Linked DNA regions of Homo sapiens: region 2 is linked to region 1. Evidence: fine-mapped expression QTL. A gene starts in region 1. The other region holds a variant in brackets. All regions are shown on one strand. Distances are from middle to middle.

Region 1 (8,319 bases):
GGCCTCCAAAAGTGCTGGGATTACAGGCATGAGCTACCCCGTCCGGCCTCTCCCTGAGTAACCTCAGTCACTGGTTTCACGCTCACAGTATTAGCGTACCCAGTCGTTGACGCCAGGCATAGTGTCTGCACTCATCGCTGCAGTCCTGGCATACAGCAAGGGCTCAACAGAACGAACGCAGTGGAGCTGGGAGAATACCTGAGGTCTGAGAGGAACCTAAGAAGTCCCCGCCCCTCCTCTATCACATGACAGTTAGGTAAAGTGAGGCCCGGAGAGAGAGGCTTCAGCGGCTCACCCAGCCCCCGTGGGCCTGGATCCAGGGCGTGAAGCTGTGCACGTGCTCCACGCTGAGTCCGGCCAGGGTGCCCCCCAGCCCGGCCACGCGCCGGCTCAGCTCCATGGCTAGGGCCAGGCGGGCCAGGGGCTCCGGGGAAGGAGGCGGGGGCCCGGGGCATGCTCGGCTTGGGCGAGAGCTGTCATCCCGGCTACAGAACAGCTCCACCAGGCGGGCGAAAGAGTCGGAGGACAGGCGGACCAGCTTGCTGCGCAGGGCGGGGTCCGAGGCCAGCTGTAGGGTGGAAGAGGCAGGGTCCGCGTCAGCAGCGCCCCCGGGGCCAGCCAATAGAGGGCCGGGAGGCGTGGCTTCCCGGTTCAGGATCGTTCTAGATGCTAAGGTTCTAGGCCACCCCTCATCCATATTAGCCAATCAAGCCAGACTCCAGGGTCTCTGCCAAACTACCCCCGGGATAGTGGCCTGGAACGTGAGTCCCTAAGCCATGCCAGGCCCTTGCCTCAACAGCCAATCAGGGCCAATCTCTACTGTAACTGAGTTAATCTAGCCATGCCCCTGGTGACCTTTCCCAGGGGCCAACCTAGTGTCTACAACAATCTTGCCCTCTACCATTCAATTAATATTAAAGGACGATGTACCTTGTCCAAGCTCCGAAGCCAATCAGATTCCAGGACACAGCCACAAGCCACACCTCCTCTGGTAGTACATTTTCCCCTACATTCTAAGCCAGGTCCCTTCTATGCTCAGTAAGATTTTAGCCACTCCCCCCACCCCCACATTCATTCACTTACTTCCCCAGCTTGGCCAGTCTCTTGTGGATAATGTTTCTGATGGCCACACCCTCTGCATTTAGGCCATGCCCCTCTAAACAATCAATTAAAACAACTAATTTACGGTACAGTACTACCCTAACCATACCCCTGTCATTCAACTATTCTTTTTTTTTTTTTTTTTTAAAGACAGAGTCTCACTCTGTCACCCAGGCTGGAGTGCAGTGGCGCAATCTTGGCTCACTGCAACCTCCACCTCCTGGGCTCAAGCGATTCTCCTGCCTCAGCCTTCTGAGTAGCTGGGATTACAGAAGCGCACCACCACACCTGTCCGATTTTTGTATTTTTAGTAGAGATGGGGTTTCACCATGTTGGCCAGGCTGGTCTCGAACTCCTGACCTCAAGTCATCCACCCAACTCGGCCTCCCAAAGTGCTGGGATTACAGGCGTGAGCCACCACACCCGGCCTCAACCCTTCATTGAAACCTTGTCCCAGCCTCTTTCCACCTGACCATCCAAAGAAAATACAGATCCAGCTTCTGATCCCAGTGCCCCACCATTCCGCAACTCCTGTCCTTGCCAAGGAGTGGGACAGATGCCCATCACCTTCTGGTTAATGACTTCTGCCTCCTCCTCCAGCAGGGCCACCAGCCTCCGCAGTATGGCTTCCTTCTCTGTCGATGGGGGACCCTGTAATTCTGGAGGCAGAAGAGAATTTGGCTGGGGGCAGAACCCTGACTATCCTCCCACCGCCATCCTTCTCTGGGGCTCCTCTGTGCCTCACCTGGGCTGGGCGGAGATTTCAGCTGCTCTTGGACCAGCTGTTCCAGCCGCTGGGCCACCAAAGCATAGAAGTCTGGAGTAGCTGGGCCTGGGGTGAAAAGAGTTAATGACAGGTTTCCAGGACATTGGAAACTTACGGATTCTCTCCTTCCCCCAACTACCTTGGCAGGTGGCAATGATTCCCATTTTATTTATTATTTATTTATGTATTGATTTTGGGAAACGGAGTCTCGCAATTCTCCTGCCTCAGCCTCATGAGTAGCTGGGACTACAGGCGCACGCCGCCATACCTGGCTAATTTTTTGTATTTTAGTAGAAATGGGGTTTCACCGTGTTGCCCAGGCTGACCTCAGGCAATCCACCCACCTCAGCCTCCCAAAGTGCTAGGATTACAGGCGTGAGCAACCAAGCCTGGCCATGATTCCCATTTTATAATGGGGTAAACTGAGGCCCAGTGAGAAAACTTGGTTAAAAATGCCAAAACCCTTGTACTTTTCACTTTATGAGATCCTCAGACTGGACTTAGAATGTCAGAGCTGGGGCCAGGCGCAGTGGCTCACGCCTGTAATCCCATCACTTTGGGAGGCTGAGGCAGGCAGATCACCTGAGGTTGGGAGTTCGAGAGCAGCCTGACCAACATGGAGAAACCCCATCTCTACTAAAAATACAAAAAAAATTAGCCGGGCATGGTGGCGCATGCCTATAATCCCAGCTACTTGGGAGGCTGAGGCAGGAGAATTACTTGAACCCGGGAGGTAGAGGTTGTGGTGAGCCGAGATCGGGCCATTGCACTCCAGCCTGGGCAACAAGGGCGAAACTCCGTCTCAAAAAAAAAAAAAAAAAAAAGAATGTCAGAGCTGACAGGGTGCGGTGGCTCACGTCTGCAATCTCAACATTTTGGGAGGCCGACGTGGGAGGGTCACTTGAGGCCAGGAGTTTGAGGCCAGCCTGGCCAACGTGGCGAAACCCCGTGTCTACTAAAAGTATAAAAATCAGCTAGTATGCTGGCGTGCACCTGTAATCCCAGTCACTCGGGAGGCTGAGGCACGAGAATCGCTTGAACCCAGGAGGTGGGGATTGCAGTGAGTCGAGATTGCACCCCTGCACTCCAGCCTGGGTGACAGAGCAACAATCTGTCTCCAAAAGACTGTCAGAGCTCAACTAGACCTTGAAGATGATCTCATCCAAGGAAGGCAAACACAAGACATTACTGTTAGTATCCCCTTCCCTCACTCACTACAGACATCACCAATTGATCACAGCACTTCCTCTCCCAAGCTGTGAACCCCTTTTCAAGCTAGCACTCCCAGCAGCCATTACTAGTCTGTCCAGGTTCACACCTATGAGGAAACTTGTGGGTCACCTTGATCAAGTCCAGTGACCTCCTCCCCAATTCCTACTCTGCTATTGGAAAAACAGGGGAGCAGGGAAGAGAAAGCATTTTCCCCAGAGTCACGCAACTAAAACAGCCAGGGAGATGTGATTGAAAACCAGCCCTTCTGCCCCTCTATCAGGGGTATTCCTGGCTACAAAAGTCCTAGGGGCAGGGAAGTAGTTATGGAAGGAAAGAGACAACAACCAGATTGACCAAATGCTCTCTGAAAGCCAACCCACAGAATTGACAGAAATCTAACTGGGGAGGGGAGAGGACAGGACGGTTCTGTCCTGAAGGCTGGTGCTAGAGACTCCACACAGCCACCCCCTAGCTGAGTGATCTTAAACTAGCACCTTATCCCGTGTTCTGCCGGCTTCATAGATGATCATGGAAATCTCTTACCAGGCTCTAAACCATAGCAGGGGCGGATGGGCAGAGAGCAAGGCCGAGGGGACTCAGAGGGGGCTGCTCCTCGCCCCAGGGAGCAGGGAAGACATCTTCGAAGGCGGCTCAGGAAGTCTGTTGGCTCTTCTTGGGCAGGGCTTCTGGAGAGGAGGACTTCAGAGACTGACCCCACCAGAGATCCCCTGCAAGCAGTCTCTTTCCCCAACTCCCTCCCTCCCCCGCTGAGGACCTCTCTCCAAAACCCCAAAGACAGAGAATAGAGCCAGATATAAAGAGAGGAGACAGACTGAGACCAGGAGCAAGAGTTAGGAGGGAGCCTCAAATGCTGGCCCCTGGGGGAGAAGGGCCACTCCTCTTACCTAGGTGGAGTTGGAACAGGAGACCCGGCAGCCTCACCACGCCTAAGGAAGGCAGCTAGGACCCTCAGCGTGTCTTCCCGGAGCCCCAGCTCTTCAGAGCCTGCCATGGAGGCACCTGTGAGAGAGAGGGTTAGGGACTGGACTCCAAGGGTTTAGCAAGAAGTGGAGGCTTGGGGACCAGGACTTGTGAGTCCCAAGGAAGGTGCTGAGGGCCTGGACTCCTGGGTCCTTTGGAGAGTGTGGGTCTGGGGGCCTAGACTCTTGAGTCCTCAGACGAAAAAGCGATCAGGAAAAAGACTCTTCGATCCAAGGAAAGGTGGTGGGGCTGGGTGCCCAGATTCGTGGGTCTAAAGGAGGAGGGAGCTGGGGTCCTGGACTTCTGAGTCTTAGAGAAAAAGGAACTGGAGCCCCAGACCCTTAGGTCTCCCAGGAAGAAGAGGCTTAGCGCCCCAACTCCTGGATTCTATAAGAGGCATATGCCAAACTCCTGAAACCCTTAAAGCATCGGGAACTACCAATCCCAAGAGGTTTCAGGGCAAATCTTCCCCTAGGTCCGCGCTTCTTCGCCGCGCAGCCTGCTGTGAGGTGTAGTTCCAAATCTCCGACCCCTGCTGGAATCTAGAGGACCCTGGACCCTTGGATATCAGAGAAGCGGGACTGGGGTGCCCACCACTGGATCCCGGCCCCCTCCTCTTCCCTCCTCACCCCACCCCTCGTCAACACCCCGCTGACCTGGTCCGGGGCCCCACCGCCGCCTCCTCCACTCAACTTGCGGTCTCCTCCACTGAACTCGTACAAACTTTATTAGTTCAACTTTCCCGCGCCTGCGCACTGGGCCGGGTCGATAACCGGCCCAGCGTAGAAAGGGCGGAACGCTGGGTGCACGCTCAATTTGCATGTGACGCTCCCAGCATGCCTCTGGCCGGAAACCCAAAAAAGGGCATAGGGGCGGGAACAGCCCAGCGGGCCGTCCCATCGGCTTTTGGGTCTGTTACCCAAAGAATGATAAAGTTGGTTTTATTTCAAGAAGTCGATCAAAAAGAAAGCCCCAGCGCTCTAGAGCTCAGCTGACGGGAAAGGGGGTGCGCAGCCTCGAGTTTGAGAGCTACCCGGAGCTCCAAGACAGGGGTGGGTTCCAGCTGCCCGCACGCCCCGACCTTCCATCGTAGGTAACGCGGAAGAGCCCGGGAGAGCGTTGGTGGCGTCCGAGAGCGAGGAGCGGGAAAGAGGATGGGTCTGCACGGAGAGTGGAAAGGCAGGCTGTGTACTCTGGGGAAAGTGGAGCAAGGAAGGAGCTACAGTGGCCGACGCTGGAGGTCGGCTGCAGAAAAACTAGAAAAAGTAGGGAGGAAAGAGGAAAAGAGGAGGCGTCTACACTGAGGGGGTTCTAGAGAGGGAGGGGTGGACTCCGTAGATGGGGGTAGTTCAGTCTCGAAACCTGGGGCGTGCTCTGTCCTGGAGGAGGGAGGCGGGCAGTCGGAGGGGAATTGAATGGAAGTTCTGTGTTGGAAATGTTTTGGGAGATCTTCTGTAGGGGGACTGTGGAAGGGGGTCTACATTGGGGTAAGTGCAGGAGGTAGAGGCTTACACGTGAATCGATTCTGCACTGAAATAACTAGGGAAAGAGGATGCTACCCTGAAAGTGGGGATACTTACTTTCGATGATGTGGGGGAGGGAGGAGGTCTATACTGGCGGAATTGAGGGAGTGGAGGGTCTGCACTGAAGACGCTGGGGAAGGATGTGCCATGGATATGGGAAGGAACCCTAGCTGATTAGAGAGCCTCTCGGGAGGATGGGAGGATGGGAAGAGGAGGTTTCCTGTTTGTACCCCCGAAAATATGGGTGAAGGACCTGTGCCGTGGCCCGTGAGAAGGAGGTCTGGGTGCGGAAACTCCAGGCCAGGTGGGTCCGGGGGAGGCCGGTCGCGCCCAGGAAATGCCCTATACGCGCAGGCCGGACCATGGGAACCCCAAAGCCACGGATCCTGCCCTGGCTGGTGTCGCAGCTGGACCTGGGGCAACTGGAGGGCGTGGCCTGGGTGAACAAGAGCCGCACGCGCTTCCGCATCCCTTGGAAGCACGGCCTACGGCAGGATGCACAGCAGGAGGATTTCGGAATCTTCCAGGTGCGTGCGACGACCTGGGACGCTGGAAACCCGGAGCTGCGCGCTGGGCGGAAAGGACTCCTAGTGGGCCCGGCTGAGAAGGCGGAGGTGGCGCGCGAGGGGCGGGCTCGTGCCAACGCTGGTGGGTGGGGCTAGAACGGGAGGGGCGGGGCTAGCCGGATCCGCTGACTGATGGTGGGGCGCAAGCAGGGTTGGAGCTGCAGGGTTACGGGAATAAAACCGGGAAAGCCGGTTAGTACGCAAAGGAAATGCATCCTGGGGGTTTGGGGCTTTCTAGAGGCCGGGGCTCTTGGTTGTAGGATAGATACTGGGGGATGGTTCTTGAAACATCAGAGGTGAGGCCTGGAGCCCCAAATCTGAGGTTCCTAACTACCGAATTAGTATATGCCAGAGGTGGTAAACAGTGTGAGGGGCGGGGTTATCACAGAGGGTGTCGCGGGGCAGGTGGTGCACGGGATTAGACACCAAGTTGGACTTGGAAGCCTGGCTTAGAAAGAAAAGGTTTTTGGGCCGGGGGCGGTGGTTCACACCTGTAATCCTAGCACTTTGCAAGGCCAAGGCGGGAGGATCGCTTGAGCCCAGGAGTTTGAGGCCAGCTTGGGCAACATAGGCTCCATCTCTTTAAAAACAAAAGCGAAACAAAACAAAAACCAAAGAGGTTTCAAAGGCTTTTGAAGAGGCCGAGCACAGTAGCTCATGCCTGTAATCCCAGCACTTTGGGAGGCCGAGGAGGACGGATCACCTGAGGTCAGGAGTTCAAGACCAGCCTGGCCAACATGGTGAAACCCCATCTCTACTAAAAATACAAAAATTAGCCAGGTGTAGTGGTGCCCACCTGTAATCCCAGCTACTCAGGAGGCTGAGACAGGAGAATCGCTTGAACCGGGGAGGCGGAAGTTGCAGTGAGCTGAGATTGCACCATTGCATTCCAGCCTGGGTGACAGGAGTGAAACTCCATCTCAAAAAGAAAAAAAGCCTTTTGAAAACTAGAGGTGGGGGATGGAGGTAGGTGGGACGGGGGGATTTGGGGATGGACCTTGCAGAGTTAGAACTTGCCAGGGAAAGAGGGTGGTGTTAGGACTCGGGAGACAGGGTTAGGGCCCCAGGAGCAGGATCTAAGTCGTCCTCCCCCACCATCCTGACACCACTGTTGCCCCAGGCCTGGGCCGAGGCCACTGGTGCATATGTTCCCGGGAGGGATAAGCCAGACCTGCCAACCTGGAAGAGGAATTTCCGCTCTGCCCTCAACCGCAAAGAAGGGTTGCGTTTAGCAGAGGACCGGAGCAAGGACCCTCACGACCCACATAAAATCTACGAGTTTGTGAACTCAGGTCTGCCAGCTTGGGGTTCGTGTGGGAGGCTGGGGCCCCAAGGGTTCCTGGCACTCCTACTCCCCTCACCACTTTTCTCAACAGGAGTTGGGGACTTTTCCCAGCCAGACACCTCTCCGGACACCAATGGTGGAGGCAGTACTTCTGATACCCAGGTGAGAATGTGCCCAACTTTCATGCCCCTCAGTCTCCGACCTGTCTCCATGGGCCTTGTCCTCTCCCTCTAGACGATCCCCCCACTCCCCTGCCTCCAGCCTGCCCCTCACCTGAGCCAGTGCTGACCCTGTCTGTCCCTGCCCCGGTCTCCTCAGGAGAAAATTCCAAGTCTTCACCCAGCATTCAAGGCCCGAGCACACCTTCCCGGGATTTCATGGATTTCGATTCGCAGGGGGCTGTCAGCCTCTTGGGAACTGAAAAACTCCCTCACCTTGATCCTGCTGAGGCCCAAGCTGGGGGAGCATCCCCTCTGAAATTCTACCCAGCCTGCTTTGCCCAGGTCTTACCTGCATAGAGCCAGATCCTTGGGTTGGAATGGTAGCACCTGGCGTTCATTAGTGTTTGTTTGGCTGTTGATGCCATGGCTGGCTCTGTCCCCAGGCTGGAAGCCCCTTGAAGGCAGAGCTCAAGCCTGACCTCCCTGCGTTGCTGAGAACAGACCTGGTCCATATGAAGTCTCCAGAAAAGGATATGGAAATGCCTGATTCTCTTTTTTTGTTTCCCTCCAGGAAGACATTCTGGATGAGTTACTGGGTAACATGGTGTTGGCCCCACTCCCAGATCCGGGACCCCCAAGCCTGGCTGTAGCCCCTGAGCCCTGCCCTCAGCCCCTGCGGAGCCCCAGCTTGGACAATCCCACTCCCTTCCCAAACCTGGGGCCC
Region 2 (8,319 bases), 67 kb after region 1:
TCCTTCCTCAGCCTCCCGAGTAGATGGGATCACAGGTGCGCCCTACCACGCCCAGTTAATTTTTTGTATTTTTAGTAAAGACGGGGTTTCACCATGTTGGCCAGGCTGGTCTCAAGCTCCTGACCTCAAGTGATCCACCTGCCTTGGCCTCCCGAAGTGCTGGGATTACAGGCGTGAACCGCCATGCCCCGCCAAGATTAAATGTCACACTGTACACGAAGGGCCAAACAATAATCCTGTATCATAATCAGTACAATCAATGACAATGATTGACATGGAGAATGGCCTTGGCGTCCATGCCACCATCAGGGTGAGAATGGGCTGACCTCCTGAGCACCTGCTCAGCCGCATGCCCTGTGCAGAGCACTCCATGGGCACCTGGTAACACCTACCCCTGTCAAGTGCCTTGCACATTAATCCTCTGATCCAACTCTATTTGTCCAGTGAACCCAGTACAGTAGAGGCCAGCAAACTTTATTCATGATGAGCCAGAGATATTTTTTGCCATTGAGGGCCAGCTAACTACCCAGCTCTCTGCCATATGGGAAAAACAGCCATAGACAACATGTAAATGAATGGGCATGGTTGTGTGCCAATAAAACTTTATTTGCAAAAACAAGCAGTGGGCTGGATTTGGCCTAGGGGCCATAGTTTTCAAGCTCCTGCGGTAGACAAACTGGAAGCAGTGAACAGGCTGTTGGTCTGCATTTACGTATTTAAGTATTTAAGGTAAATATTGAAGCTATGGCCAGCCAGGCACAGTGGCTCACACCTGTAATCCCAGCACTTTGGGAGGCCAAGGCAGGTGGGTCATCTGAGGTCAGGAGTTCGAGACCAGCCTGGCCAACACAGTGAAACCCCATTTCTACTAAAAACACAAAAATCAGCCGGGTGTGGTGGCCTGCGCCTGTAGTCCCAGATAGTTGGGAGGCCAAGTCAAGAGAATCGCTTGAACCTGGGAGGCAGAGGCTGCAGTGAGCCGAGATTGAGCCATCGCACTCCAGCCTGGACAAGAGCGAAACTCCATCTCAAAAAAACAAAAAGATATGGCCTGACACACAATAACCATTCCTAAATGATTCACTTTTTTTGTTTGTTTGAGAGAAAAGGTTTCATTATGTTGCCTAGGCTGGTCTCAAACTCCCAAAGTGCTGAGATTACAGGTGTAAGCTGCCGCGTCCGGCCCAATTCATGATTATATTTACAGGTTACATAAGTGTGTATCTGCAGGTAGTCTATGTCAATGACACATTTCCACCATTGTGCCATAAATGGCAAAGCAGCCCGCCTCTCTGGCTGGTTCCATTAAACTAGAAGCTCCCTAGGGCCAGAGCCTCATCTGCTTGTACAGTACTGGTCCTCTACCACCCACAGCAGGGTATCTGCATAAACATTAACAAGCGGTTCACCTTATATACAGGTAACGCACATATAGACACATACGCGTTAACAATCGCTTTACCTTATATACAGGTAATGCATGTACAGACACAAACGCAAATAACACCTCTGAGGCCCGCAGGTCCTCGACACCTCTATCAGCCCCATAGGACTGCAAATTCCAGGGCGGCCCGGCCACGACTGGATCTGCAGGTCTCAGCACAAGCCTGTCATCCAGCGGGCACTCAACAAACAGGTGACCAAACCCATCAGGCCCAGTTTCTGGAGAAGGCTGGGACTCACCTTGAGGGAAGGGATGTCCTCAGCACGGATGACGAACTCGTCCCGTTCCCGGAAGATGCCCTCTCCGCCACTCTCGCCGGCCTCCTCGTCCGTCTCCCCACACACTGCCGCCGTCTCCTGCTTTTTGGCCAGATGCAGGGGCCGGGTGTCCGGCAGCTCGGGGTCTTCGGGAGACGGGGCGGCGGGCTCCTCAGGAGGAGCAGCCAGTGGGGCAGCGGCTGGTGGGGGTGGTGGTGGAGGCGAGGGCATGGCTGGTGGAGGTGGCGGCGGCAGCGGCGGTGGCGGTGGTGAGCTGGGCGTGGGGGCCACCAGCGGGGGTGGCGAGGGCAGGGCTGGCTGTGGCGGCGGAGGGGGTGGCGGAGGCTGAGGCTGAGGAGTCGGGGCAGGAGGTGGAGTGGGTGGGGGTTTCTCCTCCAGCAGCGGGGGCTCTGGGGGAGACAGGGACATCAGGCCTGGATGTTATTCATCATTCCTGGCACCTTTCCTCTTGTCCTTTAAACACTGCTTTCTATACCAAAAGCCCCTCTGTAACTACCACTCAGCTCCCAGTGTCCCTTCTACCCTATCAGAGTCTCTCCAGAGACCTACTCTGGCTCCTGCGGCTGCAAAGGAGACCTGTCTCCTATCCCTAATCCCCTTCTCAGTCCTGGAATGTCTCTTTGTGGTCTTAAAGCCCTTGTCTGGTTCTTAACTCCTCTTCCTGAATGACCCTCCCAACTCCTAAATCATCACCTCCCTAACTCTACTTCCTCACCTCCTCTTCCTCCAAGGCCTCATCCTCCTCCCTCCAGGACCATCTTTGTCCTTTCCTTGGCCTGCTCACCAGTATGCAGACTGCTAACCTCTCCCCTGTCTGCCAGCTCCCTTCTTCAGGCTTTTTAAGAACCTCACAGAGGGCAGGCATGGTGGCTCATGCCTGTAATCCCAGCACTTTGGGAGGCTGAGGTGGGTGGATCACTTGAGGTCAGGAGTTCGAGACCAGTCTGGCCAACATGGTGAAACCCCGTCTCTACTAAAAATACAAAAATTAGCTGGGCATGGTGGTGCGCGCCTGTAGTCCCAGCTACTCGGGAGGCTGAGGCAGGAGAATCACTTGAACCTGGAAGGCAGAGGTTGCGGTGAGCGGAAGGCAGAGGTTGCAGTGAGCCAAGATCGCACCACTGCACTCCACACTCCAGCCTGGGTGACATAGAGAGACCCTGTCTCAAGAAAAAAAAAAAAGAACGTTATAGGGTCTTTTTGTTTTGTTTTTGGGGTTTTTTGTTTAAGACAGGGTCTTGCTCTGTCACCCAGGCTGGAGTACAGTGGCTCAATCATGGCTCACTGCAGCCTCAACCTCCTGGGCTCAAGCGATCCTCCTGTCTCAGCCTCCCAAAGTGTGCTAGGATTACAGGTGTGGTCCACCATGCCCGGCCTGTCATGGTTTTTTTTTTTTTTTGAACACTCCCCTCTGTGCCCTCCTGTAAGCTCCCACCTCTCATTTCCCAATGCCTCTGTTTCTGACATTACACTCCTTAAACTGTGTCCAAAACCAGAGCACAACCTAAACCCTTCCTATGCCCCTAGCCTTCCCTTCCACCGCCCACCCCCATCCCCAAGTCTTTCTCTGCCCCCAGACATCTTTCTGTACCTTCACACACAGTTGACTCAGAGCCCTCCTCAGTTCCCACACCTCCCACCATTCAGAACCTGAGTAGCCCCTGTCCTGTCCCTGTAACTTATCACCTGCCCTGTCTCCCTGCATTCTCCAGTGTCTGCCTTGGGGCCCCTCCTAGTCCACTTAGCACCTCTGAGTGAATTAGAAAAAGATAGACCTTCCTCAAAATGCTTGTGTAATCAGGAAAGTCCCTTCATAAACACGCAAGCTTACACCATGTATGTGAATGGTGTCTCTTAAACAGTGCGTAACCTGCACAACTGTTACCTAG[T/C]GATCATAATAACCTTTAAGCTCTACTCCCAGACCACCTGCCCAGAGCTCACCGGGAGTGCCATTGCTGTTGGCACTGGGGAGCCCCGGAAGAGGGGGTGGCCCTGGAACTGCAGCCGCGGGGGCCAAGGGCGGCCCATCTGGGGTGGAAGTGTCTTTTGGCCCAGCAAGGGGTGGGTCATCGAGGGCAGAGATGGCGGAGGAGATGCTCTCCTGCAGGTCTCGGTTCTTGGCGACAGAGTCTTCCTCATCCGAGGAGAAGGAGGGCAGCGTCTCGAGGTTCCGCTTCAGCTCCTCATCAAGCCGCTTGCAGGGTGAAGGGCAGCCAAGCCCCAGACCCTCACTCTCTGCAGCCTCCAGGGCGCCCCCAAGCCCAAAGGCTCCGGAAGGTGGGGGATGTGGCACAGCAGGGGTGGCAGGGGGCTGGGGCTGCAGGCCTCGGGCTGGCACAGAGGGTGGCACACTCTTGGGAGGGCTGAGCGGAGGCGTCAGGCCCGCCTGGTAGAGTGGTGGGTGGCGCTTGCCTGACTTGAGGAAGTCCAAGAAGGAGGCCATGAAACCCGACTTCATCTCCGGCTGCTTCTCCTCCACCTCCTTAATCTTGGCCTCGATCTTCTCCCGAGTCAGGCTCGAGTCCAGGCTGTTGTGGTCAGTGCCTGATATGGCATCACCCGATGAGGTTCCCAGACCCTCGCCAGCCTTGGGCACAGACAGCTTGATCTAGACATGGGAGTGGCGGGCCGTGAGGGCCCAGTAGCCTGGGCCCCCAGTCCCATCCTCCCTCAGCCCCCAAAAATCCAAATTTACAGGTGCTCAGCCTGTGAATTTATAGAATTCAAACCTGCAGACCCCTTGTCTTAGATTCTAGGAGGACAAGACTGGAGTTCCTCCCTCAGAAGACCAGGAACTTGGACTCACTGAGCCTCTTCACTTACAGCCCAGTTCAGGTCCCTAGACCCGCTTCCCATGAGACCCAGGAATGTAGGATCCCTGAATGCCCATCCTTTGGGATATAGAAACTAAAAGCAAGCAGACCGGGTGAGGTGGCTCGTGCCTGTAATCCCAGCACCTTGGGAGACTGAGGCAGGCAAATCACTTGAGGTCAGGAGTTTCAAACCAGCGTAAGCTCCAACCTCCTGCCTCTCTCCCTAAACCCAGAATTTCCTTTATCTCTTGAGACAGGGTCTCACTCTGTGGCCCAGGCCACAGTGATGCAATCATAGCTCCCTGCAGCCTTGAACTCCTGGGCTCAAGAGATCCTCCCACCTCAACCTCTTGAGTAGCTGGGACTGTAGGTACACGCAGCCACACCTGGCTAAATTTTTGTGTTTTTAATAGAGACCAGGGTCTCACTACGCTGACCAGGCTGGTCTCGAACATCTGGGTTCAAGAGATCCTCCCGCCTCAGTCTCCCAAAGCGCTGGGATTACAGGCATGAACCACACTGCCCAGCCTAGATTCAGAATTTCAATTCTTAGGTCTTTCTGTCAGTGAGACCCTGAAATTCCTCACGCTAACTTCCTCACAGATTTTAGAAATGTAAACCTTATTATCCCCCTGCCCCAAAAATGCCAAGGTGCGGCCATAAACCTGTCCTTTAAGACTCAAAACATCGGGAGGCCGGGCGCGGTGGCTCAGGTCTGTAATCCCAGCACTTTGGGAGGCCGAGGCGGGTGGATCACGAGGCCAGGAGATCGAGACCATCCTGACTAATACGGTGAAACCCCGTCTCTACTAAAAATACAAAAAAACTAGCCGGGCGTGGTGGCGGGCAACTGTAGTCCCAGCTACTCGGGAGGCTGAGGCAGGAGAATGGCGTGAACCCGGGAGGCGGAGCTTGCAGTGAACCGAGATCGTGCCACTGCACTCCAGCCTGGACGACAGAGCGAGACTCTGTCTCAAAAAAAAAAAAAAAAGACTCAAACATCGGACACAGCTCCTCCTCCCCTATCCCCTACAAGACCCCATTTCCCCTCACCTTAAGTGGCTTCAGGGGCTCCAACCGGGTGCCCCCTGCCTCCTCAGCCTTTCGACCCCGGCCTCGGCCCCGGCCCCGGGGTTTCTTGGCGCCATCGGTGGGCGTGGAGGCCGAGGCGGGCCCCGCAGTGGTCGGGACCTCCAGGGGGCGGATCCGGGGCCTCCCCCGTGGCCGGGGTGGCCCATCACGTTTCGCCTTCGTGGGCTTGCGGCCACGGCGCCGGGGGCCATCGGGTCCTGGGTTGGGTGGGCAGAAGTCGATGTCCCCCAGTGGCGAGAGGGCCGGACGGGAGCGGCAGCTGGAGACCAGGTCAGGCAAGCGCCGGGGGTTGAGGCGGATGTCGGCGGGAACATCGGCCTTGTCCTCGTCCGCCTCGAACTCGTACTCCTGGGCGTACAGCTTCTTGGGGGTCTGGAAGGGTGGGTCGCGGCGCCGCAGCAGGTGGAAGGAGGATGTCTTGAGCAGCTTCTTTGGCTTGGTAGAGCAGAAGATGGGCGAGGTGAGGCCACCCTTGGGTTCGGAGGCCGGCGCGGGAGGCGGCGGTGGCGGAGGCGGGGGTGGTGGCGCCGCCTGGTGGGGGCCACTCTGGATCAGGCCCAGCGGCTCGGCGTTGACCGTGGAGGGCAGTTCAGGCGGTTTGTTGGGGTCCAGGCCCAGGCCCGGTGTCTCGGGCCCGGCTCCCGACGCCCGGCCAGGACAGTAGGGCCCATAGGGATCATAAGCAGGGGGGCCGGGGGGTGGCCCAGCGCCAGCCTTGGGGTCCCCCTCGTCCTCAGGTGGCCCGGCCTTGCCGTAGTCGTCCGCGGCCCCTCCACCGAACATCTCCTCCATGGTGGGGAAGAAGCTGCGCTCCTCGTCTTGGAGCAAGGAGTCAGGGAAGCAGATGGAGGTGAGCGGCACGAAACGCGGCGCCTTGGTGCCTTGCGGGCTGGGGCTGCGGTAGGCGCCTGCGGGATCCTTGCCCTCCGAGTTTGGTGGGCCTACGCCAGTATCCCCAGGCGCCGGGGGCAGCGGCTCCAGAGCCCCGAGCAATTCCTGCATGGCGCCTGGCGGATCCAGGCTCTCCTCGGGTCGCAGGCGGGGGCTGGGGGCCGCGGGCTCCAGGCCATGGCTGCGGAGGTGGGCCTCGAGCTGCAGGGGCATGGGTGGTGGAGGCGGGGGTGGCGGTGGAGGTGGCTGGGGTGCCCCATCGCGGGTGGCTGGCTCAAGGAGGTGGACGCCGACTTTGGAGGCGCTGGGAGAGGGACTGGGGGCATGGCTGAGGACCGAGGGGAGCAGCTGGGGGGGAGGCGGAGGCAGCACCAGTGGGAGGTCAGGGCCCCCGGCCTCCAGAAGGAGGCCATGGGGAGTGGGCTGGGTAGACTGGGCCGTGGGAGGTGGGGGCGGAGGGCTCTTTTGCAAGAAGGCCCCCAGCTCCTTGGCGCCTGCCCCGTAGTGGACAACAGAGGTGGCCAGCCCCTCGGGGGTCTCGCCACCCCGCTCTGGCCCTTTCTTCTTCTCCTTCAGCCTCCCCAGGCCCAGCTCCAGTGCCGCAGTGGCACCCTCATCCAGGCTGGCACTGGTGCGGATGACACTCTGCAGGTGGTACCTCTGGGGGTCTTCCTTGGCCAACTCGTAGGGTGTACCCGGTGGTCCCCCGGCCCCGCCACTCCCCCCAAGTCCCTTAGAGGCATCTGCTGCCCCGTCCTCGCCCACCAAGCCGTCCGCCCCTGAGGTCCGAGGAGGGCTGGGCGCCTGCAAGAGGTGCTGGATAAGGAACTCCTCATCCTCTGTGCGCTCCGCAGGAGGCCCACCTGGGCCCGCCAGCAGCTCCGAGCCATCCCCCTTGCCCTTGTAGCCACCTGCTCCGGCTGCATAGCTGCCAGCTCCCGGAGGTGCCAGGAAAGGCGCTGAGGCCAAGACTGAGCTCAGGTATTTGCCAGGGGCTCCTGGAGAGCCGACTCCAGGTGGACGGCCGGTGGCAGGCGGTGACTGGAGCGGACGAATGATGTGAGATGGGCTGGCCTCACCGCCGCCTCCCAGGGAGCTGGGTCCCCAGCCACCCCCATGGCCCGAGAGCGCTGGGGAATGGCCGGTACTGTAGCTGAGCGAGGGGCTGGCTGTGGGCAGCCCCTGGGAGTGGGCGGCTGGCCCTGGGTATGGCTCGCCCTGCACCCCATACAGCTGCCCCTGCAGCTGGTCCGGGGAGTAGCTCTGACATGTGGCCAGGCCAGGAGGAGGGGGGCCGCTGGGGGGCTGTGGGGGGCCCCCTGAGTAGCTGGGGGCTTTGCTCAAGTCCTGTGCCTGCCCCCCTCCAAACCCTTGCCCGTAGGCCTGGGGTCCCAGAAGCCCTTGAGGCTGACCGGGGGAATAAGCCTGGCCCCCTGCCCCTCCAGCCCCAGAGGCCTTCCCAGTGGCATAGGCGGCTGCTGGCCCACCCAGGCTCTGACATTTGGGGGTGGCGGTCGAACGGGGTGGGGGGGGCCTGGTGGCACCCCCGGCAGCTGCTCCATAACCACCTTTGCCCGTCTTGTACCCAGGCGACTGAATGATGGGGCGGTAACCTCCACCACCACCCCCAGCCCCACCGCCCCCTGCTGCCTCAGGGCCCGTGGCCCGGCCAGATGCCCCAGCCGTGGCTCCGCTGGGACCAGCCTTGCTAGGCTCCCCAGCACCCGGGGAGGGCTCCCCACCACCCAGGGGGCTGCAGGCCAGGTTGGCCCGGTGGCCCATGGAGGGGTAGCTGCCTCCA

Evidence for each region.
Region 2: its variant is fine-mapped to the expression of BCL2L12 in whole blood (TOPMed, PIP above 0.99).

What each region holds. Positions count from the first base shown.
Region 1 is chr19:49,662,465-49,670,783 of GRCh38, reverse strand. It overlaps BCL2L12 (BCL2 like 12), which reads right to left and starts at 4,851. Exons shown (of 7, transcript NM_138639.2): 1 at 4,717-4,851; 2 at 3,985-4,099; 3 at 3,623-3,765; 4 at 1,847-1,933; 5 at 1,669-1,760; 6 at 296-568. The coding sequence starts at 4,091. IRF3 (interferon regulatory factor 3) reads left to right here and starts at 4,927. Exons shown (of 8, transcript NM_001571.6): 1 at 4,927-5,153; 2 at 5,938-6,110; 3 at 7,270-7,441; 4 at 7,526-7,596; 5 at 8,167-8,319. The coding sequence starts at 5,946. RefSeq lists silencers at 4,679-4,758, 4,799-4,948.
Region 2 is chr19:49,595,283-49,603,601 of GRCh38, reverse strand. It overlaps PRR12 (proline rich 12), which reads right to left. Exons shown (of 14, transcript NM_020719.3): 4 at 5,589-8,319; 5 at 3,664-4,330; 6 at 1,684-2,111. Among named protein-coding and RNA genes, the nearest start is that of PRR12, 8.3 kb to the right of the region's middle. The variant T/C (reference allele first, on the strand shown) is at 3,612.